Homo sapiens: one gene and its partners. The protein of the gene in region 5 purifies or fractionates together with the protein of the main gene of each other region. This does not show direct contact. Each region holds a gene or a part of one and is shown on either strand. Other genes may lie near its edges. The genes, in order: SFXN5, SUSD5, SLC25A46, NUS1, LCTL, USP22 and OCLN.

Region 1 (3,500 bases), on a different chromosome or scaffold from region 5:
CCCCAGGCACAACCTCACCTCCCCACCTGCTCTCCATTACAGGGAGCACCAGGTTGTGCTCTGTCTACTGGAGCCTCTTCTCGGCTTGGAAAGCCTGTCCTGACTCCTCCACCCACAGAAACCTGTCTCCCAAATCCTTGCCTGGCCTGGCCCTCAGACAAGCATCCACCTGCAATGCTGAGCGGGGTGGCCCCAGAGCAGCAGAGCCAAGAAGGAGCAGGGGAGGGAGTACTCACAGCAATGGAGACGGCGCTGATGACAGCTCCCAGGTATCCCTGGATGAACTTGGATGCAGGTGAAGGCTGGAAAACAGAGGCAGAATTTCAGGCCTGCTGGGTGCCCAAAGCTCCCATACTTCCCCTTGTAAGCTGTCCCAGCCAGCAAGAAGCATCCTGCCCACCAGCCTGGAAAGTGGGTAGAAGGAAGAGGCCCCTCAGGACTCAAAGGGATCAGGCCACCCTCAGCTCAGTTCCCAATGCAGAAATATAAATCACCAGTATCCAGGGAGATACTGAAGGGCCCACTTCACTCCTGCCCTGTTCTAGAAAGGTCACTGGCAGACAGTGCTGGGTGGAGGTGGAGAACAGCAAGGCTAACATGGACCATTGAAGGCTGGGGCAAGCAGTCTTCAGTTTAGAGGCTAAATGTTTCAAGGGGGCCATTTGGCATCTGGAGCGCTTTCTAGGTGGAAATGCCAGTGTCAAGGCTCTCACAGGCCTTGCCAGCCCATGGAACAGCTGGGCTCCCATGTCAACAGATGATAGCTGCCCAATATCTCTAGAGAATAATATACCCCAAGTTCCAACACAGACAATTAAGAAAAAGCTAAGGAACTTGCCCTGTGCTACAACTGCAGGTCTAGAAGTGTCTGGTTTAAGATAAAGGGAGTCATCCAAGCAGAGATGGCCATATGTGAAGCCTATGAGAGAGACTTGGGGTGGAGGTTTAGATGTCAGGGGGCAGCCACAGCATATCAGGCCTCTCAATTCCTATGGCCCAGGCCAGCTCCTATTCCCCTCCTCTCCCCCAAGGTGAGCAAATGTTAGGACTCTCCTCTACCCCAAACTGACAGGCCCCCAAAGGGGACTTAGATGCATCCTGCCTTCTTTGCCTTTGAATTGAAGTTGGGGAGAGGTGGCCTTGCCAGCAAAGCAGGGGCCCAGCAGCCCTTCCTGGACAACAGAAGGGTGACTGGGCCTCCACCACAAGCTCTCCAAGGAGTGCAGGGGCTCTGGGGGGGAGTTACCAGCCCTGGACCCTCCCCACTCAGGAGCAGCCCTTCAGCTTGTGGCCAGCAGTCGGGACCTGGGAGCGCTAAGGCAGCTTCCAGAAATTTTGGAGGAAGCTTTATGGGAATTTTGCCCCCAAGTAGCTGATACCATCATGATCCAAAACCCAAATGTAAGAGCTACCCAAGAAGAATCTGAAAGCCAGCCGAACTCATCCCTTGCACTGCTCCCATTTAATGGGCCTTCTTCACTTCATGTAAACAGCCCCTCCCCAGAGGGCTCCTGGCCCAGAAACTGCAGCTGACCTCAGCTGAGTCATGTCTGAGTCGGCCACCCACCTGAAGGGCTGGCATTTTAAATAAGATATCTAGAGGAGGGCCATGCTTAACCAAGAGGCAGCCACTGATGGTGGCATGTCACGCTGTAGGGAGGATGACTGGGCCTCCCTAGCCTGAACCCCACCACTGGGGAGAGGGCAGTGATGCTCACCTTGGTCGCATTGCGGTTTGCATAGTTGACACAGGCATTGTGGCTCTGGTTCAGCCACTGAAAGGCAATGATGAGAGAAGTCAGGGAAGGAGTGGTCACCTCCCTGGAAGCCAGGCCTGGACCCCAGGAGGCCACACATCCCCAGAAAGGCACAGCATGCGGTCTCCAGCTCACATGGTGCCGCCCATGCTGCCGGTCAGCATGACTGACCGTCCTGGTTTGCCCAGGGCTGTGCTGGTGTTAGCACTGGAAGCCCTGCCTCTCGGGAAGTCTCTCGGTTCCTGAATGGGGTCCTGCGCACCCCAGTAGTCCACCTGATCCTGAGACAGTCACCTCTCTTGGAATGATGGCATTCACTGCCCCTGCAGACCCCACTGCCTTTGTCACACCATCTTTATTATATTACCTGCTGGACAAAAGTTGGCCTAGAATGACTGACAGCCCTACAATTCTTTCAAAAATCTCCCAGTCCAGTATCCTGCACCTCCAGTTCCCAGACACAGAGGCCGGCAGGAGTTTAGTTCAGGGAAGACTGACATTTTCTCCTAGAAGACAGACAGGTTTTCCTTCCTGCCCGTCTTTCTCTGCACACACAAACACAGAGATATCCTCAGTTTTCATGGCATCACAACCCAGACTGTCTCCAAGAGCAGGGACCAGGGTCTGTGATGCACTTCACAACCTCAGGTTAGGGGTGGATTTAGCTTCCTCAGCAGATGTGGGGGAGGCTGATGTCAAAATGAGGCTATGGGCCTCAGGGTCACTGGCCTTGGGATGAGCAGCCAAGGGGCAGAGTGGGGGCCACCCCACTGACAAGCCAGCATGTTCCAGGCAGGGGCACGCAGCCCTCATGACCTCTGTCCAAAGGTTAGAGTGACACATGGTGGATTGAGACATGCTGGGCTGCTGGAGACCTGCTCAGCAGGGCCAAAGTCCTGGTTTTCCTTCAGTGGCTTCTGGGCTAGGGGTGGTGTTGGGGTGGACTGACCCTACACGGGGTCTGGACGGGGCAGGAGACACCACAGCAGGGAGTTCTTAACCAGCACCTGTGTGGGCCCTTCCTTCAGGAGCCCTGTTTGCTGCGAGACTGTTACCTGCCAGAAGACAGTGGATGCCAGTGTCTGGTTGGGCAAGAGAAGACCGACTACCTATGAGCAAGAGAGAAGAAATGCTGAAAAAGGCAGAAGAAACATCCTATGCTTTTGCAAAGAAAAAATACGCTACCACAAATGAGTGAGCTGGATCTGTACAAACTGATGTGGTATGCCGTGTACATACAAACTGAGGTTCATTGAGGGAGAGGCTGTGTGATGGGAAAAAACCAAGTTGCAGAATTATATTACAGCATAATCTTATTTATTTAAAGAAAAATCATTTTATATATAACGATATACACAAACACATGCATACACACATTATCTTCAAGCATGAAAAAACCTGTAGTGTGGATGTCTCTGGAGGTTGGGTTGCAGATTACTTTTGCACAATCTTAAATATTTCTGTATTCTTTTAAACAACAGACATGTATTATTTCCACAATTAGGGGGGCAATAAAAACAAGCAAACAAAAGGAATACCTTCGTTTCCACTCAGGTTACCTGACTGCTCACCCTAGCCTTCCCGTAGGATTTTTGCGAGGATTAAACAAAAATCATTTCAAAGGCCTTAAGTGCTTTGTAAATACAAGTTGGGGGAATTTGTATCTGTTATCTGTGAATTTCCATGAAGCAAAAACCTATACCAGGTTTAAGCAACTGAATGAAACATAGATTTCTAATATTT
Region 2 (4,080 bases), on a different chromosome or scaffold from region 5:
GATGTGGATTCAAATCCAAGTTCTTACTGTGAAAAGAAAGTAAATTATTTCAATGTCTGTGTCCTGGTTCATTAAATGAGGATAATCATCTGCCCCTTTAGCACCAATCACTTTTTCAATTGTAAGTATATTTTATTTAAGTGTGAACATTTTTAGGACCGATTGCAGCCACATTCAGGGTCTAGCACAGGGACAGGCATGTATGGGCACTCAATAGATGTTTGTTGACCCATACATCAATATAAAAGGGATTTGCAAATTGTAGAGCACCGCGCATGCCTCAGTTATAACAATACTGATCTTTATTACTCTACCTATGAAGAAAGCAAGTTCTTCTTTCACTGAACAGGGCTGGTGGTAGGGAGACAGGCTAGGGGCGAGCAGGAAGAAGGAATCAAGTCAAACAGGGACCCCTGCAGCAGAATCCATTGGGACACTTTAACTTAGAGTGTAGATTCCCAGACCAGACCGACAGAGTCCGAATCTCAGACCCTTTCGAGGTCAAAAAGCCCTGATTTGGGAGGTGGGTGATAATGGTGACAATCTCACTAGCCCTCTTACTGCTCCTTGAGAAATACTAGCGTACCAGGAAAAGTGGTGAAGGAAGCGTTCCTGAAGATATCCTTTCCTCAGTGACTCTCAAACTTCGCTTTTAGGAAAGAGGAATTTCGCTATTCCATGCGTTTCACACCTTAGAGTGAGGGTGGTAGGTAACTTAGATTTTCCTCTCTTCATTAAAAAAAAAAAAAAAAAAGAGTGTTGGTGGGGAGGGGGAGGAGGCCAGTTGAAAAGTAGAGGCCGAGGACAGAGTTAGACACTCGTTGTCTAACGGCCCTGCCGGAGGGGCTCCGCCTGTCAGACTGCGTCACCCTCTCGCCAAGGGTCCCCCAGACGGGCGGGGGCTCCTTGCGGCCGGCTAGCTACTCTCCCCGCCTCCCTGCGCCCTCGCCCTCCGCCCCGCTGTACCCGCAGAGCGCGCGGCCCAGCGCAGCCCCTTTTGGCACCGAGGTTTCCAGGTGCCCAGCGCGAAGGCGGAGCCGGGTTACAGCCGCCTCCTCGGCGCCACAGAGAAGACCCCCGGGAGTTCGGCGGCCCAGGCGCTCCGGCTCTGCGTCCCGAGCCTCCCCCGGCTCTCCGCGCTCCTCCCTCTCGGCGCGCCCGGCGCGAAGCCTGCGATTCGTGAGCCGAGCGCAGAGCGCAGAGCCGAGTGGCGCACGCTGGGCAGTGGCCTGGGCAACCCCAAACGCAGCCAGAGCCCTCACCCGAGTCCGCTGGCCCGCGCACTCCCGGACCATGACTGCCGAGGGACCCAGCCCGCCTGCCCGTTGGCACAGACGCCTCCCCGGGCTCTGGGCGGCGGCGCTGCTCCTGCTCGGTCTGCCGCGCCTTTCGGTGCGGGCGGATGGTGAGTGTGCGGGAGGCGGCGGGGCGGGGGGTGGAGCGTGGGGTCCGGGCAGGGAGGGCGTAGCTCGCCGGGGCTGCTCCCTCTGACCGGCCCGGCAAGCGGCAAGCGCAAGCCTGAGAGGAACGAACGAGCCGCGGTCCTGCGACCCAGCATCCCTCTCCTGGCCCACCAAGTCTCCGCGTGCCCGTGCGCCCAAACGCCCGCCTGGTGCCTGGACCCTCCCTTAGCGCCGAGCGCGTAGGTCCCGCAGTCCCGCCGCTGGCTTTCCTAAGGTCTCCAAGAAAGCTCGAATGAAATCACCTCTAAGGTGCCCTAGAACCTCCTCTGCTAAGGGGTGATTTTCCGCCGTCCCTCAGTTTCTCAACGTCTATTAATGTGCCCCTGAGGACACCGCCGATGGTTAGAAAACTCCCTCGGATATTTTGGCTTGGTCCGGGAAGACGTGAAAGATGAGTGGGAATCAGCGAGGCTAAGAGAGAGAGAATGGCCTGGCCAGAGGGAAAAGCACGTGCAAAGGCTGTCTCTGAGTGACAGGAAAAACGGGACAAATGATAAAGCAAAGTACCTGGAGGCGAGGGGACGTCTTGAGACATGAGGTAGAGAAGTGGGCAAGGGCCAGATTATGGCAGGTTCTCTGAGAATTGATCCACTTCTTGTTCGTTTGCTTGGTTTTTCAGCCTGAATTTAGCTTGTAATACTTGCCCTAAAATGAGCAGGATTGGAGCTCTGTATCCATTCCCTTTTGAAAAGCTAATTCAGCTGTGTTTTCATATTAGAACAAAATCCCGCTGACTTGGTACAGGAGCATCTGAAGGAAGCAAGCTTAAAGCCAGCAGTTCTCACACCCATGAGGTAGTTCTAGCTTAGGACGAATTAGACTGATAAAAGAGAAAAGCCCTCCGTCAATTTAGGATGCGTTGTATATTTTAAAATGTGATTCTTGTTTAGCCAACGATATTGAGTGAAACTAGAAGACATGGGGAAAAAAAAAAAAAGCATGGTTGTCAGGAAAAGGGGAAAGCCAAGGAAAAAACCGTCTAGGTCGTAGAGTTTTTAGTGCTCTCTGTTTTAAGTGCAGGCTTGAAAAGCTCTCCGTTCCTAATTAAGGATGAATGTCGTATTTCTCCATATCCTCAGAGAGAGTGTTAGAGACAAAACATTTTTAACTTTGAAGGCTGTTAGTAACCACTGCTAATTTTTTTAATTGACATGTATTTCACATAAAATTTGTCATTTTAAAATATACAGTTAAGTGGGTTTTAGTATATTCATTAGGTTGTGAAAACCATGGTTTGCATGCATCTAATTCCAGAACATTTCCATCACTCCTCAAAAGAATCCCATACCTATTAGCAGTTTACTGATAATTCTTCACTGTAGTGTTTTTTGACTGACATTGAGCCATGAAAATTAAGCTGATTTTAAAGAATGCAAGTAGAATAAATTGGAGCTAATATTAATCTTTGAACAAGATATATTGTGCCAACTTTAATTCCTTTTAAATAAATATTTTTGCAATCCATAAGGTTTTAGAGTTTCATCCCATTATAACTGTTTAAGTGGAATGCCATGTGGATAAGGATCAATATTTTGTGCCTGTCTAGCTTGATACGGGTCATAGAAAATTAAAGGCAGAAATGTCACTGGTCAAAGAGAAAGTAAGGACAACACCAGAGCACATGATTCTTTGTTACTGCTTGCCAGAAATGATTCCTTTTCTTCATTCTCCTTCCTTTTCTTTCCCCACTTCCTCAGTGGACAATTATAGGTATACTTCCTTATAGTAAACTCAATTTTATGAGCTCCAACTTTTATACTAGAACCAGGAAGAGTTATAAGCTATATTATCAAAGGATTCTTTTTGGTACTAAATTCTTAGCTGCCACCAGTTCCTACATTTAGTTATTTGTGTGCTATGGTGACGGGAGGAAGAAGAAGAAATGCTCAGCTTAAGTATGATGAATTACAGATGTTTGAAGAGATAGATTTGGAGAGAAACTATTTCTAAAAACGTGTCATCTGTATAAGGATGGTCTTTGAAATCATGTGCGTGGGCAGAATCCTAAGGAAAAATTTTACAGCAAGAAGACCTAGAACTGAGCCTGGAGTGAGGGAAGCTGGTTTGGGATTATTGAATCTATGTTTATGAAACATATTAGCCTGTAATTTTCATTTTTTATAATATCTTTGCCAAGTGTTGATATCAAACGTATGATGGTTCCTAAACCAAATTGTAAAGTTGCTCCTTCTTTAACTCTGAAAGGGTTTCTGCGGGTGAGGGCTTTTGTTTGTTTGTTTTGGTGTGAGATCATCTGTGTCTGAAGGTTTTCTTGTAGGAAGATTTTAAATAATGAATTTAATTTGTTTGGTAGATAAAGAAGTATTCAGATTTTAAAATTAATTTTGTGTCAATGTTGCTAAGTTTTATTTTTTAAAGTTTTTCCCCCACTTCATTTAGATTGTCTAATGTGGCATATACAATGTAATAATCTCTAATTATCATTTCAGGGTCCACGGGATCTGTAGTGATGTTCCCTTTCATTCTTGATATTGGTACTTTGTGTTTTCTCTTTTTTTGTCTTGATCAGTCTTAGTAGGGGTTTATCCGTTTTATTATTCATTTGAAAAAAGCAACTTTTGGCTTTATTTTCTTGATTGTGTGTCTGCTTTCCGTT
Region 3 (3,500 bases), on a different chromosome or scaffold from region 5:
AGTAATCTTATTTTTTTATTTCTATTTTTTTTTACTTTAGAACAGCTGAATAGATTTGCTGGATTTGGTATTGGACTTGCAAGGTAATGTTTTATCTAAAGACGTTTACAGCTTTTATTTATTGAATTTAGAGTTTTTCTTTAATTTACAATATTAAATGATTATTATTGCTTCCTTTAGGTTGTTTCTTTGAAGCAGCAGCTTAAATTTTGAATAATATTTTGCAGAAAAAAAATGACCATTATTTAAAATATATAATTTGATAGTTTTTCCAGTAAGGATAGACTAGTCATCCAATTTTATAAACACAAAGTAATTTTGTAATGAGTATTGTAACTGTTTTCATGGGTCTATCCAAAAAATAAAATGAAGTGTAATCTTATCTCTCTCCCATCAAAATAATAATTTAGAATGGGGTTCATGAAGATCAAATGGCTCTGCTGATAAGAACTTTTTTCATAGGACATTTTCTGAAAGAAAAATTACATGGCATTTAATGATGCCATGTAACTGACGTGTCATTTCCCACATCAAACATACAGTGATCTAGTTTCATTTTATACCGTAGATATTAATATTGTGTATTATATATTGTTTCCCTTACTTACCTGTTTGCAGATCTGGTTTTCATTCTTTTCATGGGTCTATCCAAAGAATAAAATGAAATGTAATCTGTCTGTCTCCCATCAAAAAAGTAATTGTGCATGGAGGCTTCTTTCTAAACACTCTAATGCTTACAAGATATTTAGCAACATAGCATCTAGATTTTGTTCATAATCAGCGTTTGGTGATAGCATTACTTTTTTTTATATCTAACGATCATTTTAAGAAAATCCTTTAGTCTTGATTATTGTGATCCTTAGTGAATACCATTTTCAAAAATATTGGAATTGCACAAAGCTTACATTTCATGCCATAATGATCATTATTTTAAACATTTTAACGAAGAAAAACACCTTATTTGCATAATTAAACCCGAGGGTGTTAATGTCAATATAAATAAAATCTGTGTTTTCCATTCTGCTGGAGTTGTTTTTTGCTTCAATATTTATACTTAAAGCTTTGATTCATTTGATAGACTATTATTACATATAAATATGTGTGCACATGTATGTATATGTCACTCTGAGACCTGAAACCCACAGCTGTAATTGTTTTGTGGGGCACATTCTCAAAATAAATATTTGATACATAAATATTAGTCAATTAACATGGTCATTAAGAATCTTATAATTTAAGATTTATACTTAAATTTATACTTAAACCTTATAATTTAAGTGCACCAAAACCAAACATTTTTAGAATGGGGTTCATGAAGATCAAATGACTCTGCTGATAGGAATTCTGTTATTAGGACATTTTCTGAAAGAAATAATTTGCAGCATTAAATGCCATTTAATTGATGTGCCATTTCCCACATTAAACATTCAGAGATCTAGTTTCATCTTATACTATAGACATTAATATTATGTATTATGTATTGTTTCCCTTATTTACTAGTATGCAGATCTGGTTTTCATTCTTTTCATATTGAATTTCGTTATGGGTAGAATCATTTGCAAACATTTCTAGACATTTTTAAAGATCTATTTAATTTGTTTAAGAATGGAAAACATAAAATAATGCATGATTCTTCAGGCAAGAATAATTTCAGAAAGATACCTGTTGTAAATTTAATTTATCTCTATGTAGACATACATATACATAAATTATTTTTATATAGTCTCTTTACAGAAAATGTATTGGCACATCCTTGCATTGTTCTACGCCGCCAATGTCAGGTAAATGTAATTTCTGTGATCTTTTGAAGCAATACTTCTGACCCTAATATGAAGGGCAGAACTCACATAAATGACATGAAACCAGGTAATTGTTACTTCATGTGAAATGTTCCAAACTTTTTGGTCTCAAAACCTCTTTAAAGTCTTAAAAAAATATTGAGGATCCTAAATAACTTTGGTTTATGTTGGTCATATCTATTGATAGTTACCATTTCAGAAATTAAAATTGGGAAAATTTCAATGCATCTATATAATTCATTAAAATAATAACACCTGTTAGTAAGATAATATGTTTTTATGAAAGTAACTATTTTGCATTTTTGCAAATATCTTTAATATCTGACATAATAGGAGAGAGCCAGTTTCTCTCGTATGCTTCTGCAGTCAATCTGTTGCATCACGTGGTTTTTGAAAGAAGCAAGGAAGTTTAGTCTTGTACACATGTATAGTTGAAAGCAGGAGAGGAGTATATTATATTCTTTTGAGATAATTGTGGGTATTCTTTGCAATTGCACCAAAACTCACTGTGTCGCAGTTTCTTAAAGGTTATTTGCAATGTGAAATCAGAAATCATTTTAGTGAACTTTTTATACTTTGTTACATTAAAAAATCCATTTAACTATACTGCATCTTGAATAGATATTTTTACTTATGCCTGATTCCATGTAATTGTGCATAAGTTATTTGAAAAATATTGACCAATTGAGTTACATAGATCTTCCTGTTGTTAAAACATTTGATTATAAAATATCAAAAAATCATCTTCATTAAAAATACTACTGATCTCACTAGAAAAGTCTATAAGTATTGTCAGCTCTTGACGATGCATATAGATTTTCCAAAATTCTGAGTTTTAGTTGAAAATTCAAACTTATCATTGACAGTAAATACTGTTATTTATTTTTGTTTTAATCAACAATCTCACTTTGTTTATTTTTTAAAATATGTCTGTCCTGAAAGTGAATAGGTATAGTCCGTCAATGAGTTTTTCTAAGTAAAAATGATGTTCCGTGAAAAAAGTGGCTAGTTTAGCTTGCAGTTCTATCATACAAGTGCTTTCCTCATGACAGCAATCTTACTTCCTTATGTAACACACAGGATATTAATTAGAAAGAGGATGTGTACTCAAAGGTCAAGGATTCATAAAATTAACATTTTGTTACTTCATTGTCAAGGATATTACTATATGAAGGTTGCTTTTTTCTCTCTATGGGTAAATGAGGTGAAAAATTACTGTAAGTACGAAAATACAGTTTGATGGTGCTGCCTCAATTTGTGCTAATGAGCTGGGAGTTTTACCTACCATTGCTTTTGTACCATTAGTGAAAATGTCAAGACAGTGAAAAAAGGAAATTATATCTTAGTAATCACTAGGAAAATAATTTTGAACTTGTCAAGCCCCTGAAAGGGTAATGGGGCCCTCAGGAGTCAGTGGACCCCACTTGCAAACTCTGTTATAACCCACTTTTTTTTTTTGTTTGTTTGAGACGGAGTCTCGCTCTGTTGCCCAAACTGGAGTGCAGTGGCATGATCTCGGCTCACTGCAAACTCCGCCTCCTGGGTTCACGCCATTCTCCTGCCTCAGCCTCCCGAGTAGCTGGGACTACAGGAGCCCGCCACCGTGCCCAGCTAATTTTTTGTATTTTTAGTAGAGACGGGGTTTCATCGTGTTAGCCAGGATGGTCTCGATCTCCTGACCTCATGATCCGCCCGCCTCAG
Region 4 (3,500 bases), on a different chromosome or scaffold from region 5:
AACCACATGTGCATTAACCGATGAATGCATAAGCAAAACGTGGTATATCTAGAAAATACTACTCACCAATAAAAAACAATGAATAACTAATGCATTTTACATAGATGAACCTCAAAAATATGGTAAGTAAACAAAGCAAGACATAAAAGACTATATATTGTATGACTCCTTTTATATAAAATTTATAGAAAAAGCGAAAGTATAGTCAGAAACCAGACCAGTGGTTGCTGGTTTAGGGGGCAGGAGTGGGGACTAAATGCAGTCACAAAGGAACTTTTGATGGTGATGGTATTCAGAATGCTTGCCTCTGTCAAATTAATAAGTTAAGAATTGTGTACATTTTCATTTATCCTAAGCTTACAATGCCTGAAGGCAACAACTGGGCTTAATAAACATTAGCGCTTTCCCATGGACTACCTGAAGGTCATCTTTGGATCTCCATCAACTTTTAGAATGTCCTTATGAAATTACTCTCTTATTAGGGTCTCATAGGGTGCAGGAAACAGTCAACATCCCAGTAACATCTGAGCAGAGAGGCCCCATAATGGTCTACTACTCACTGAGCCTGAATATAATTAGGCAATGACAGGGTAGGGTAAGAAGCAAGTAGTCAACAAAAGTAGGAAGTTAGCGAAACCAAGAAGTGGGAGATGGACTTTGCTCTGTGACGGACACATGTCAAAGTGGAAGAAACAAAGAATGGAGAGTTAAGTAAATAAGTTAAGATAGAAAATGCATTTCTTTTTCTTTTTTTTTTTTTTTTTTTTTTTTTTTTGAGACAGGGTCTCACTCCGTCACCCAGGCTAGAGTGTACTGATGCGATCTTGGCTCACTGCAACCTCTGCCTCTTGAACTCAAACTATACTCCTGCTTCAGCCTTCTGAGTAGCTGGGACCACAGGCGTGAGCCACCATGCCTGGCTAATTTTTTATTTTTTGTAGAGATGGGGTTTTGCTATGTTGCGCAGGTTGGTCTCAAACTCCTGCGCTCAAGCGATCCACCTGCCTCAGCCTCCCAAAGTGCTGGGATTACAAGTGTGAGCCACCCCATCCAGCCTGAAAATGCACGATTAATAAGTAAATGGATAGTCTAAGTAATAAAAAATGAATGAATGTCTAAAACTGTATGCCTATAGAAGCTATTAATGAACATGAATTTACTAGAGAGATTGTCTTTCTTCAAAAGGATCAAGGCTAATGCTAGTAAGCAAGAAGAACCATGACATTATGGCAAAAAGGTCCTAGAGGGAATTCTCTAGACAGAATATGCAAACCAAAGGCTTATTTAAACAGCTGAAGAAAAAAAGTTATATTTGGTATAACATGACAAATACAGTTGTATATTTGGTATAGCATAATAGAAAGAATAATTAAAAAGGAATCATGGTAACAGTAAGATTATATTCCTGGGATCACCTCATAAAAAGATTAAGTTCAAAGTTAAGGGAAAGTTCAAACTAAAAAGAAAGGGGAAGAGGGAGAGGAAGGCTAACAAGCAGAAGTCCTATTTTCAAGAATATTCATCACTACAAAAAAGATCCTCAAAGGTCATCTCCTTTACCATTAAATCCTCATGCGAGTGAGTGGCTACAAATTTCATTGTCTCGAAACCATTTTTACATAGGTCTTTAAATTTCAGAAATTTAACAGGTATTAACAACAAAAGAATCAGGCTTTATGGTGTGAAAGAAACAAAAATATTTTCTTTCATACTGTATCCTCGTGTGACAAAACTAAACACACACACATACATATACATATATATGTATATATATATAAAAAAACTTACTAAGTAAACTGGCTAACGTATCTACATCCAAATCTGTGGGTCTCTTTTGCTTCTGGGCTACTAACTGGCAAAAGTCCTGAGCAGCTCTTACAATATCTGCTTTTCCATCTTCCGGAGACAGCACCTTCACTGCCAAATGGCAATTTAAAACTGGAAGAAAAAACAAACAATGTATTTTAAAAACACTCTCTTCCAGGTATATTTCAAAAGCAGTTTTAAGAAATACAAGGTTAAACCAAAATAAACATACAGTTCTTACAGTAAACAAGAATTTTTTAAGCCCTTCAATTTCAATATCAAAACATACTTAGCTATTCTCCTCTGAAAGGATCCATATATCCCAAATCACATCCATGTATATATTTATACACTGCCTTCTTTTCAAAGTGTTCAGAATGACTATACATTGTGACTACATCCTCTAGAAAACAGAAACTTTATAGGCTAGCTAACAAATTTTCACGCATCTAAAATTTCCTGTATAATTGCGATATCGTTAGCAGTAACACAGAATAAAAGAAAAAATAAAGACTAAGAAAAAACTGTTAGAGTGGAATATGCATTGCCTATAGCATACATACCTTTATCAATTCTACTTTTATAGGAGCTATCTTACAATTGATGGGATTCTCAGATAACACTGCAAAATTCTTATCTATAGACATGCAAATTCTTTCTTGTCCAGCAAAGATTCAATTTCTTTCCTCACTCCATAGAACAACCAGTTGTACCTCTATTTATATATTCATTTCAATATCTCTACAAATGTGTCCATTCTATGGATTCTCTGTGGAACCAGTTAAAAAATTTGCCTGGTTAAATAAAATCCTTATCATGTGTTCACTTTTTACCAAGATTAAGACGAGAAAGTCTAAATCTGATGATTAAAGATGTTGACAATAAAGAGTAACAGAGCAACGTGAATGAATAAATGACAGAGTAACAGAAATTGCCATGAAACACAAAACACACATCTTCATATGTTACATGTTCAATTATACACTCATGCTTACCTTGATCATCTTTGTCATTACTATTTGCAAATTCTGGTGAGTATTTTGAACAATCTAGGCCCAGAAGTTCTTGCTGTTGTTTTAAAATTTCATCCATCAATCTGGAATTATTTCTTTTGAAAATACCTTTAAAAAAGAAAAAGGCAAGTAAAACACAACTAGGTTAATTTTTCCTCTTCAAGTGAATGCTTGCTATGAAAACAACACTAGATCCAGAACTAAACGAATGTCAAACAAAGCTGTAATGACTAGTCCTAAACTAGAATCTAAAAGGAAAACATGACAACAAAACTTTGTTAATACAAGAGTCTGGCTTCCAGCAAAAAAAAGAACAGAGGTAACTACTTAAGTAGTGGCATGTGAATATGACAGAAATTTAGACTTAGGAATTTTAAGAGATCACTTACTTAAAATCTTTATGGATTCAGAAACTGAGGCCTAAACTCTTTAAGGTTCTTCTCCAAGAAATTATAAACTGCAGCAGTGGTCTAGAGCCTGTTATGTTCCTCACTCACAGTCTAATGTACCTTTTCTGCAGATTTACTACTTGTATTAAATAATCTTGCCTCAATTTGATTAGTTTTTTAAATCATAAGAGGAAGTAATAAGGATTACGTAAAAAGAGAACAGAAAAACAATTTAGTAAATTTAAAACAAAGCACAGAAATAAAATACAAAGAACAATGTATGGTCCTCTAT
Region 5 (4,007 bases):
TTGGAAGCAGAGACTGGGGCCTCACCAGAGTCTGCACCTGCCAGTGTCTTGATCTTGGACTTCCCAGCCTCCAGAACTGTGGGAAGATACATTCCCGTTCTTTACAAGTTACCCAGACTCAGGCATTCCATTGCAACAGCAAAAGTGGATTAAGACAGTGAGTCAGAGAGATTTTTTCACTCACTCGCATCTTATAGTCCTGCGCCAGAATCCAGACCCTAGTCTCTGCTCCACCTTGGCAACCCAAGTCCTCAAACTGGGCTCCCTCCTGCTTAGTTGAGTCCCCTTTGGGCCTGTGAGCCTGCTCAGGTCCTCACCTGTGGCAGATCCCAGTGGTGCAAGGTCACGATGGGAGTGATGTTGCTGCTCAGAAGGGCATCGATAAGATCACTGTAGAATTCGATTCCCTTCTTGTTCACCTGCTCGGCTGCAGGTGAAATAAAAGAAGATGCTACCAGAAAGGACCTCGGCCTTGGCCTTGGCCTTCTGGAGTGCAGCATTCCTGGGCCCTGTTGCTTTTTGAAGGCCTGAGGCACCCTCAGCCCACCAGCATTCTGGGAGCCCAGTTACCTGCAGAACCTGTGAGAGCTGCTACCGTCAGCAACTACGTTCATGGGCTGATCTCCCTCCCCAGGACTCTGTGGTGCCCCTGCAAAGCCAACATTGCCGGAAGGGGCCTCACTTGGGTTCAAGAGGGGCTTCCCTAGCTCACCTCGGATGCCTGTGGGCAGGAGCCGGGGCCAAGACAGGGAGAATCGGTAGTGGTTGACGTGCAGTTCCCTCAGCAGAATGATGTCCTCCTGTGCAGACAGGGGTGGGGAGACAGGTCACCTGGGCCCTGGGTATGGGAGGTAGGGGTCCATCGGGCTCTAGGGCCGAGGCTCACTCTTGTCTGTAGCTGTTAGTGGGCAAGGAAGAACCTGCTTCCTCACCTGTACAACAGAGGTGATGCCACCTGCCCACTTCATGCAGGGGATATGCCAAGAGTCAAAGAAAACGCAGGACAGGGAGGCACTGAGAGAAGTCCATCAGGGTGCCCCTAGTAAACCTGGGTGATGAGTTCCTCAAGAAGCCATCCAGAGAGGAAAGTGGGTGCTGAGGATGAGCGGGTCCCACTCCCTCCACAGGGTGCAACTGACAAGCAGGGACCAGGGGTTCAGGCCACTGTGGCTGTAGGCCCTGAGGCTGTGGGATCAGCCCTTCAGCTCCCCCTTCACTTGGCCTGAGGCACTGGCTCAGGTGAGGCCCCACTTTCCTTTCCTCCTACATCCACCTCACATCCTGGCCCCTCCCAAACCTTCACCCCCACTGGCCCTGCCCCCTCTGGCTGCACTGGGGTAGAGGGTGTTTGGCAGAGCATGGGGATGACATTGTCATCAGAGCTCCCCCAAACGTCACTCCCTGCCTCCCAGCTAGGCATGTACTCACATGTGTGTGCACGCGCGCGCACACACACACACTCACACCCCGCACTCACCTGGACCTTGTAGTAGCCGTCACAGGCTACATCTGCCGTCTCATTCCCAAGCACTTTCCCCTTCCCACTGTGTGTGAAGACGTCCCAGATGCTAGGCCCTTTCCCGTCCTGGTCCCAGGCGCCCTCCGTCTGGTAGGCAGAACTGCCCACGCCCCAGGAGAAGCCTGCAGGGGGAGACCCGTGCTGGGTCCCAGGTGCTCCCATGTGTCACCCAGAGCCAGGACTCTGGGCTGTGCCTCCCAGGCCTCAGGGACTGCCCCTCCCTACCACGCTGCCCCTGTCCCACTGGGGACTTGTCTTCCTAGGAGTGTGAGCACATGAGGCACGGTAGGGGAAGATATATTAAAAACATTTTTTGCACAATTTTAGCTCTGATTAGCATACATTATCTGTGTAATTTTTAGTAACTTCAAAAAAAAAATATCTGTTAGGAGCTTTTAGAACAACCACACAAAGGTAGGTTTCTCATCCTGCCAATCAGGAAGCAAGAACACCAAACTCCTTGTCAAGTCAGCCAAAGTGGGCAGGTGGACGACAGACAGGCAGACAGACGAACAGAGGCGTGGCCGTACCAAGAGGGAAGGTTCCATAGTAGAAGGAGGCCTCTTCTGGGGACCCCTTCCGGGCGGCCCCCAGCCTGGGCACCAGCAGTAGCATCCACAGAAGGGTGGCGACCCACACTGGCTTCATGGTGCCTGGCCCTCCCCCATACCTGAAAAAGTGCAGCTGGCTCTGCAGGCCCCTGCAGCCAGGCTGATGGCCAGGTCTTGGCTTAGGGCAAAGGCCAAGTGGGGAGAGGAAGGGAAAGGAAGGCGCTTGATCTGCACCCAGCAGCAGAGGCTGAGGCTGGATGTCTGATGCTGTTTCCGTGCCTGGGGAGCTCTGAGACTGATGGGCAAGACTCCAAACTATCCCTTCTCCCTACCTTGGCTCCTGTCTGATGGGGGAGACCCAGCCCATACCCCTGAGTGGCCTCTATCTAAGGGGGAAACCACGTCTACCTCAGGGAAGCTCCAGTCTGAGGGGGCAGGTGGGAAAACCCACAGGGCCCTTTGGCTCTCCCAACGACACGCAGACCCCTCCCCCAAGCCGGGGTTGCCCATCCCAGTGCCTCTGTCCTGCACACGAGGGAGACCCCTCGCTCTGGAATCCCCTCTTTGGTGCCAGCCCAGCCAGCTTACCCAGGATCGTCCTTGATCGCAGACACCCCCAGAGCAGTCGCTGGTAGTCAGAGCCCTCTCCAACTGACCCCCAGGGCCTACGCTGTCCCCTGAGAGAGGAGCCACAGCACAGCCGAAGGCTCTGGTTGGGGGTGTGGTCTGTGGCTACAGAAACTTTCAATAGCTCCATTCAGTGGGGGCCGGGCAGGAATGCTGAGCTGGCCGGCAGGGCCTGAGTCAGCAGCTGGGGGAGCTTGGCGCTGGGTGGGGGGCGGGGGGGCAGGGGAGCTATCAATCAACTCCCCATCCTGGGACAGAAGGGCAGCCAAGGAGGGGGGAGACCTGGTCCTCCTGGACCCTTCTGGGCTTGACATGCCACCTTCAGCACACCCCAGTCCTTCGAGTCCCAAGCTGGGGGTGGCGCAGGACCAGTGTATGTTGCCATGTGTCTCTGTCTACTTGTCCCAGCTGCCAAAAAAAAAACAACCAAAAAACCCACCATAAAAGATAGAGTTGGTTTTTCCACCTTGGCCTTCTCTCTTTGTATCCCTCATTCATTTCTTTCCTCACTCATTCATTCAACCAGCACCACCTGCTAGAACAGCCCACCCTGTAGTCTCAGCACCTCTTGCCCTCATCTGCTGTGGCTCCCTTCCCTGCAGTGCCCTCCCCATCAGAAAGGCCTCCTTCACATAGCTCAATTTCCAGCCTCCCTGCCTTCAGCTGAGCCCTCACCACAGCTCTCTCAACTGGGCCTTATGGCTTTGTTGTTGGTTAATTTCTTTGTACTCTTCCTTTGGGTCTTCAATGGGTAGCACCTCCTCCAGGAAGCCTTTCTGGATTCATGCACCCTCAGGCCAGACTAGGTTCTCTGGATTTTGTTTTCTTTTCTTTCTTTTTTTGTTTTCTTTCTTTCTTTCTTTCTTTCTTTCTTTCTTTCTTTCTTTCTTTCTTTCTTTCTTTCTTTCTTTCTTCTTCTTTCTTTTCTTTCTTTCTTCTTCTTTCTTTTCTTTCTTTTTCTTTCTCTCTCTCTCTCTTTCTCCTTCCTTCCTTCCTTCCTTCTTTCTTTTTCTTTTAAACAGTGACATGGTCACGGCTCACTGCAGCCTGGACCTCCTGGGCTCAAGTGATCCACCTCAGCACCCCAAGTAGCTGGGGCTATAGGCACCCACCACCACGCATGCCTAATTTTTTGTAGAGATGGGGTCTTGCTATGTTGTCTAGGCTGTTCCTGGGTTTTCCTACAGCCTGCGTTTACCCCTCCCACCCTGCACTTCCACATCAGCTGTTTATGTATCTGTCCCCTGCCCCTTTGTAGGTTCCTGGGAGGCGGGAGGCGGCCAGCCTGGTTCATCAGCATCCAGTCCTCT
Region 6 (3,500 bases), on a different chromosome or scaffold from region 5:
ACATTTGCAGACGATGCGGTTGGTGAGTAAGCTAAGGAGAGAGGCCCAGTGGGGGCATCCACAGGCTGACATGGACCGTGGAGGGGTGGCACTGTTTAAGCAGCCCAGCACACCACTTTCTGGTGTGGTGGCTCCTGCAGAGGCAGGATTCCCCAGGCTGGCGGGTTTTCCTAGAAATTCAACCTAGAATCTACTACTCCATAGCCCTTGCAATGATTTCTGAATTAAATCCTTTTCTCCTATAAATTAATTCAAGTAGATTCAGTAGACTGCAAGCAAATCCTGAAACATAACTAGGATTTGTATGTGACAGGAATTAGAAGAGGATCAATTATTTAATTGTTGTTGATCTTATGCAGTACAGAAACACCCTGCCAAATTCATTAATTTGGTCCCGATATTAAGAATATTCCTCTGAATATCCTGTCCTCTTATCTCCCCACTCACACTACCTCCCACCCCAAGAAGGATGCGGAGGAGCAAGAGGGGCAGAGCCCTTGTAGTCAACCAGACTTACCCTATGGGATGACTCAACAGTACACTGAATTTTGAGTCCAGCTTTTAAAAGTGTGCAAACATGACACACCACCTTAAGAGCTAGTGCACTTTTCACACATTACCCATGACTTCCTACTGGTCTAAAACCTGAGCATCTTAGGAAGGTAAGTTTAATTCTTGTGCATTCTCTTCAGTGACTTTTTCAAGGACTCAAACACTGACATAAGTGAAGGGACAGGTATAATTTTTTTTTTTTTTGAGAAGGAGTCTTGCTCTGTCACCAGGCTGGAGTGCAGTGGCGTAATCTCCGCTAACTGCAACCTCCGCCTCCCGGGTTCAAGTGATTCCCCTGCCTCAGCCTCCCGAGTATCTGGGACTACGGGCGCGTGCCACCATGCTCGGCTAACTTTTTGTATTTTAGTACAGATGAGGTTTCACCATGTTGGCCAGGATGGTCTTGAACTACTGACCTCAAGTGATCCACCCACCTCAGCCTCCCAAAGTGCTGGGATTACAGGCATGAGCCACCGTGCCCGGCCTAAATATTCTATCCTTTATATGAAAAAAAAAATACGGCACTAAAAAGCTAAAGACTTTGCCAAAATTAGATAATCTTCTCAAATTAAGTTCCCCAACCTCAAAAACCTCAGCTTCCAGACTCAGGCCCCTCAATCTCGGAGCCAAAATCAATCTAAGGGTACAGCGACTCCAGACCTTTCAATTTACAGAAGGGGTAATTTCATTCAGCAAAGGCAAGACCTCAGACTGACCTCATTTCAAGGCTGGGACCCAGCAGTTGCCGGTGATGTCCTTGGACAGGTCAGGAGACTTACTTGCCAGGCCTACCTAAAAAGTGTATCCCAACTACCAAAACCAGAAGGAAATTACGTATGAAATATAAAATATCACAGCAGTCCTCCCTTACCTACAGTTCCGCTTGCTGTGGTTTCAGTTACCCACAGTCAACCTCAGTCTGAAAATAGTAACATGGAAATGCCAGAAATAAACAATTCATAAGCTTTAAACTGCCCGCCGTTCTGAGAAACATGATGAAACTGAGTGACATCCCGCTCTGTCCCATGACCATCCCTTTGTCCAGCTTCTCCGTGCCATCTAGGCCACCTGCCCGTTAAGTCACTTGGTAGCTGTCTTGCTGATCACATCAACTGTTGCGGATGTGATCACGGATAAAAGTGAACACAAGCCACTTTTATTTGGCTTAATATGGCCCCAAAGCTCAAGAGTACTGATGCTGCAATTTGGATATGCCAAAGAAAAGCCATAAAGGGCTTCTTTTACGTGAAAAGGTAAAAATTCTTAATAAGAAAACAATATCAAATAACAAGGTTGCTAAGATCTACAGTAAGAACAAATCTATCCATGAAATTATGAAGGAAAAAAGTTTGCACGTAATACAAATGGGGTTCAGTATTATCTGTGGTTTCAGACAACTACCGGAGGTCTTGGAATGTATCCCTCAAGGATGGGGGTGAGTACTCTATTATCATAAACAGGAAATGAGGAAGCCCAAGAGATGCTGTGCTGAGGGACACACACTTGGACGGAAGCAAACTGGGGCAAAATCCTCCTGGTACTGACCAGCTTAGGCTAGTCTTCCTTTAAATTGAGCTCACCTCACACAACTGTCAATTACACATGTATGGGGAGCAATCACATTATCCTAAAGCCTCATTTTAATCTACCATTCTCACTTAATTCTCTGAGTTTCTTACCAGAGCTGCTAACATATAATAATAAAACTCACACTCAATTCTATCTCAATTTCTACTCTTCAGCACCCTCTGCTACAGGTACTGGCCAACATAAAACAAGAGGCAAGAAAAAGACTCACATATCCATTAGGCGGGTCATTTTAATCCTTGAAAACTGAGTTTACTTCCTACCTAAGCTTCCATCCGCTTAATACCAAGGTGATCAAGTCTGTGTGCTAAATACAGGAAAAGCCTTAATAGGAGACCCTGCTACCAATTTGTAGGAAATAGGACAAAAAAAAAACAAACCACAACACTTTGAACTTCCACTGTTGAGTATGCAAACAGCAAAATCCAGACTATAGGGAAGTCAACAAGTCACAAGGCCCAAGTTTTTCAACAGATAAAGTAGAAGCAAAAAACTGTAAGAAAGGAATGAAGAGAGAACCTACAGATTAAGAAACTTAAACGACTTACCAGTATAGCCACATGATAAATACCATTAAAAGAAAAAGGAATGAACTTTCGGCTGGGCGCGGTGGCTCACGCCTGTAATCCCAGCACTTCGGGAGGCTGAGGCAGACAGATCACAAGGTCAGGAGATCGAGACCATCCTGGCTAACACAGTGAAACCCAGTCTCTACTAAAAATACAAAAAAATTAGCTGGGCGTGGTGGCAGGCGCCTGTAGTCCCAGTTACTCGGGAGGCTGAGGCAAGAGAATGGCGTGAACCCAGGAGGCGGAGCTTGCAGTGAGCCGAGATCGCACCACTGCACTCCAGCCTGGGCGACAGAGCAAGACTCCGTCTCAAAAAAAAAAAAAAAAAAAAAAAAAGGAATGAACTTTCAATCCACTCAATGGATACAATGGATATTGCTAGACAAAAGAAGCCAGTATGAAAAGGCTACAGACTGTATGAACCCAATGATATGACATTCTGGAAAGGGAAAAACCTCCGAGATGGAGACGAGACCAGTGGTTGTGGAGAGTTAGAAGGTGAAGCACAGGGATTTCTTGGGGCAGTGCAACTGTTCTGTACAGTACTGTAGTTGTGGATGCCTCTGTCAAAATCCACTGAGCTTTAAAGCACAAAGAGCAAACCTTAATATATGCGATTTTAAAAATAACTGATGAGGCCCTATGGAATGCAGGCTGAGGCAGAAGAAACCAATTGTATTACACATATAGGACACAACTCCGCCAAGAGGGGTGGGGAGGGAAGTACCTAAGTAATGTGGAAATGAGGAGGGAGTGTAAGACTAAAAGCAAAAGGAACTGTAACTGAGCACT
Region 7 (3,500 bases), on a different chromosome or scaffold from region 5:
GTTAATAATTACAAAGCACTATTCTGTTTTTTTTTTTTTTTTGAGGTGGAGTCTCGTTCTGTTGCCCAGGCTGGAGTGCAGTGGCGTGATCTCAGCTCACTGCAAGCTCTGCCTCCCGGGTTCACGCCATTCTCCTGACTCAGCCTCCCAAGTAGCTGGGATTACAGGTGCCTGCCACCACGCCCGGCTAATTTTTTGTATTTTTTTTTTTTAGTAGAGACGGGGTTTCACCATGTTAGCCAGGATGGTCTCGATCTCCTGACCTCGTGATCTGCCCGTCTTAGCCTCCCAAAGTGCTGGGATTACAGGCGTGAGCCACCGCGCCCAGCCCCTACAAAGCACTATTCTATGTACATCTATCCTTTCCTATTTAAAATAAAATAGCCAGGCTGGGCATGGTGGCTCATGGCTATAATCCCCACACTTTGGGAGGCCAAGGCAAGTGGATCACCTGAGGTCAGGAGTTAGAGAATAGCGTGCCTAACATGGTGAAACCCCATCTCTACTAAAAATACAAAAAATAGCAGGGCATGGTGGCAGACACCTGTAATCCCAGCTACTCGGGGAGGCTGAGACAGGAGAATTGCTTGAACCTGGGATGGGGGAGGTTGCAGTGAGCCAAGATTGCGCCATTGCACTCCAGCCTGGGCGACAGAGTGAGACTCCATCTCAAAAATTAATAATAATAATAATAAAATAGCCTTATTATCTTTCCTATTTATAAAGCCATTCATTCTTTCTGTAGAAAAGAACTTAAGCGGCCGGGCACGGTGGCTAATGCCTGTAATCCCAGCACTTTGGGAGGCCGAGGTGGGCGGATCATGAGGTCAGGAGATCGAGACCATCCTGGCTAACACAGTGAAACCCCGTCTCTACTAAAAAAAAAAAAAAAATACAAAAAATTAGCCAGGTATGGTGGCGGGTACTTGTAGTCTCAGCTACTTGGGAGGCTGAGGCAGGAGAATGGTGTGAACCCAGGAGGCGGAGCTTGCAGTGAGCCAAGATCGCGCCACTGCACTCCAGCCTGAGTGACAGAGTGAGACTCCATCTCAAAAAAAAAAAAAAAAAAAAAAAGAACTTAAGTAACACAGAACTGTATACAGAAAAAGAAATCATCTTAAATCCTACCATCAAGAAATCCTTATCACCAAAATATTAGTTAAAACAATCTCTCCAAGCAGGAGTCACCAAGGCACATACACCTTTCTTTAAGGAAACATCATCTTCCATGTTTCACTTATTTTCTTCCTGTCTTTTAAATCAACAGTTTATGGGTTTTTTTTTTCCCTCCCTTGATCACCTGGCTGAGATAGAATTTGTCCATGTAAAGTTACTGGATTTTTTTTTCAATCCATCCTTTTCATACTGTATTTTGTATACATACTGAAATTAATGTAGTTACACCACCTTTTAGAGGGAGATTAATCTCTTCTTGTTTATTTGTTCCTTTATTGATCAGTCAATCACTTACGTAAGTATGGACTTTACAGATACCTGTTTTATACTGTGAATTATAATCCAAGGCTGCTTTATTTTGTAGCTCTAATTGTTCTCGCTTTGACGGTTGGGAACTTTCAGTTGCTTCCCGTGTCCCTTTGACATACTCTTATTGTGGGGTTTTATCTTTAAAAAAAAAACAAACAAAAAAACTTCCTTGCACTGCTTATTTCTGGCTTTTCTTAACAGCAAGTTTTTTTTTTTATATCAATAATAAAGACCTACTTACTTTTAAGTTTTTTATGTGTAAAATTAGGTAAACAACTTTCAAATTTATGGTTGTATCATAATTTAAGAGTCATTTTCTATGGATAGACATTTAAGTATGTCTCCCCCTACTCCAGTAGTACCAGTATATACTGGTGAACCTCTCTGTTTTTGCACTCTTGTCTACTTATCTAATTTTTTTTTTTTTTTTTTTTTGAGACGGAGTCTTGCTCTGTCGCCCAGGCTGGAGTGCAGTGGCGCTATCTTGGCTCACTGCAACCTTCGCCTCCTAGGTTCAAGTGATTCTCCCGCCTCAGCCTCCCGAGTAGCTGGGATTACAGGCATGTGGCACCACACCTGACTAATTTTTGTATTTTTAGTAGAGACGGGGTTTTGCCATGTTGGTCAGGCTAGCCTCGAACTCCTGACCTCAGGTGATCTGCCTGCCTTGGCCTCCCAAAGTGCTGGAATTACGTGTGTGAGCCACAGTGCCCAGCCTGCTTATCTAACTAAAACTAATTCCAGAATGTGAAATTGCTGAGAGTCAGAGGGTACGTACCTTTGCAAAGTTGCAAAATTGCCCTCCAGAGAGACTGCACCAACTGTGTCTCCCTCTTGATACAATACAGGACTCATTTGATGCACATCTCATTAAATATTCTGCCATTTTTCAGTTGAGGTGATCTACTTTTTAGTTTTGACGTATTCACATCTTTATATAGTTAGATTTATGTATTTCTTTTATGGTTTCTATAGGGTGTTATAGATCTTTCTTAATTTAGTGAACATTTATTGATCACTTATTTTTCTTTGATGATGTGGAAATGCTGGAGCTAGAGACATAAAATCTTGTCCCCACCCTAAAAGAGCTTATATTTTAAGAAAAAAAACCTGACATCTAAACAATTTAGACAGTATGATTAATGCTGTATTTGCATCATGTGTAGAAAGCACTATAACTAACTGCTCATAGAAGAAATAAAGTCTTTGGAGGCTTCACAGTGAGGGAATCGTTAAGAGCTTTCCAGACAGAAGGGTGCGGGGAGGTGCATGATTACAGCCATAAGGAAAACATGATTGAAATCCTGAAGCATTTAACATGTCTCAGTTTTTAAAGGAGTTGCTGATGATGGGTACTGAGACTGGAAAGGTAGGAAACTGGATGAGGGGAGAAGTTAATGGGAAGCTCAGACCAGTTGTGTAGTGGGATATTACCTGATCAGCGAGCGCTCTGTGTTATAAAAGATCTTCCTGGTGTCAATGTAGCATGGGGACTGGCATGAGGAGAGATGAGAAGTAGCAGAACAGATAGTTACCTGCCTATGTGAGTGAAATGTGAAAGATACAGTATCATAAATGTCTCTTCACTGAATTCCTTCAGACCTTCCTGCTGATCATGAGTTTTAAGAGCTTTACGACTTCATTCTTTTAATTGCTTATATTTTTGTCATAAGCTGTCATTTTTAGCTCCAAAGTATAACATCAGGAATGTTACTTTTAAAAGAGAAAATGCCCCAGTAAACATATTCCTTTGTGTCTGTCGTTAATAGGCTGCTGCTGATGAATACAATAGACTGAAGCAAGTGAAGGGAGTAAGTATCCGAGATTGTTCTTTTAGGAAGAACTTTCTTTCTTCTTCTTTTTATTTTAATTCCCATACCTACTCATCTGGAGGAAGAGCTTTTCTATTACATGTTTTTCATTTTTTATTTTATATATTTTTTAAAAGTTGAAGTATACATACAGAAAAGTGTATAAATCAAAGTGTATAACATGGTGAATTTTCACAATGTGAC

The links.
Region 1: the proteins of LCTL (region 5) and SFXN5 purify together in Homo sapiens (affinity purification with mass spectrometry; one large-scale study listed by BioGRID and IntAct). This does not show direct contact.
Region 2: the proteins of LCTL (region 5) and SUSD5 purify together in Homo sapiens (affinity purification with mass spectrometry; one large-scale study listed by BioGRID and IntAct). This does not show direct contact.
Region 3: the proteins of LCTL (region 5) and SLC25A46 purify together in Homo sapiens (affinity purification with mass spectrometry; one large-scale study listed by BioGRID and IntAct). This does not show direct contact.
Region 4: the proteins of LCTL (region 5) and NUS1 purify together in Homo sapiens (affinity purification with mass spectrometry; one large-scale study listed by BioGRID and IntAct). This does not show direct contact.
Region 6: the proteins of LCTL (region 5) and USP22 purify together in Homo sapiens (affinity purification with mass spectrometry; one large-scale study listed by BioGRID and IntAct). This does not show direct contact.
Region 7: the proteins of LCTL (region 5) and OCLN purify together in Homo sapiens (affinity purification with mass spectrometry; one large-scale study listed by BioGRID and IntAct). This does not show direct contact.

The regions. Positions count from the first base shown.
Region 1 is NC_000002.12:72,998,713-73,002,212, forward strand, and holds part of SFXN5 (sideroflexin-5), read right to left. Parts: intron 2,867-3,500; coding exon 2,813-2,866; intron 1,776-2,812; coding exon 1,719-1,775; intron 303-1,718; coding exon 237-302; intron 1-236. UniProt on the Homo sapiens protein: Mitochondrial amino-acid transporter. Transports citrate. Does not act as a serine transporter: not able to mediate transport of serine into mitochondria.
Region 2 is NC_000003.12:33,216,011-33,220,090, reverse strand, and holds the start of SUSD5 (sushi domain-containing protein 5 precursor), read left to right. Parts: upstream 1-1,280; 5' UTR 1,281-1,293; coding exon 1,294-1,405; intron 1,406-4,080.
Region 3 is NC_000005.10:110,742,007-110,745,506, forward strand, and holds part of SLC25A46 (mitochondrial outer membrane protein SLC25A46), read left to right. Parts: intron 1-40; coding exon 41-83; intron 84-1,723; coding exon 1,724-1,781; intron 1,782-3,500. UniProt on the Homo sapiens protein: Transmembrane protein of the mitochondrial outer membrane that controls mitochondrial organization.
Region 4 is NC_000006.12:117,692,469-117,695,968, reverse strand, and holds part of NUS1 (dehydrodolichyl diphosphate synthase complex subunit NUS1), read right to left. Parts: intron 2,928-3,500; coding exon 2,802-2,927; intron 1,939-2,801; coding exon 1,789-1,938; intron 1-1,788. UniProt on the Homo sapiens protein: With DHDDS, forms the dehydrodolichyl diphosphate synthase (DDS) complex, an essential component of the dolichol monophosphate (Dol-P) biosynthetic machinery.
Region 5 is NC_000015.10:66,563,199-66,567,205, forward strand, and holds the start of LCTL (lactase-like protein isoform 1 precursor), read right to left. Parts: upstream 2,801-4,007; 5' UTR 2,659-2,800; intron 2,190-2,658; 5' UTR 2,168-2,189; coding exon 2,050-2,167; intron 1,642-2,049; coding exon 1,478-1,641; intron 801-1,477; coding exon 713-800; intron 428-712; coding exon 318-427; intron 1-317. UniProt on the Homo sapiens protein: Plays a role in formation of the lens suture in the eye, which is important for normal optical properties of the lens.
Region 6 is NC_000017.11:21,033,012-21,036,511, forward strand, and holds part of USP22 (ubiquitin carboxyl-terminal hydrolase 22), read right to left. Parts: intron 1-3,500. UniProt on the Homo sapiens protein: Deubiquitinase that plays a role in several cellular processes including transcriptional regulation, cell cycle progression or innate immunity.
Region 7 is NC_000005.10:69,548,290-69,551,789, forward strand, and holds part of OCLN (occludin), read left to right. Parts: intron 1-3,254; coding exon 3,255-3,296; intron 3,297-3,500. UniProt on the Homo sapiens protein: May play a role in the formation and regulation of the tight junction (TJ) paracellular permeability barrier.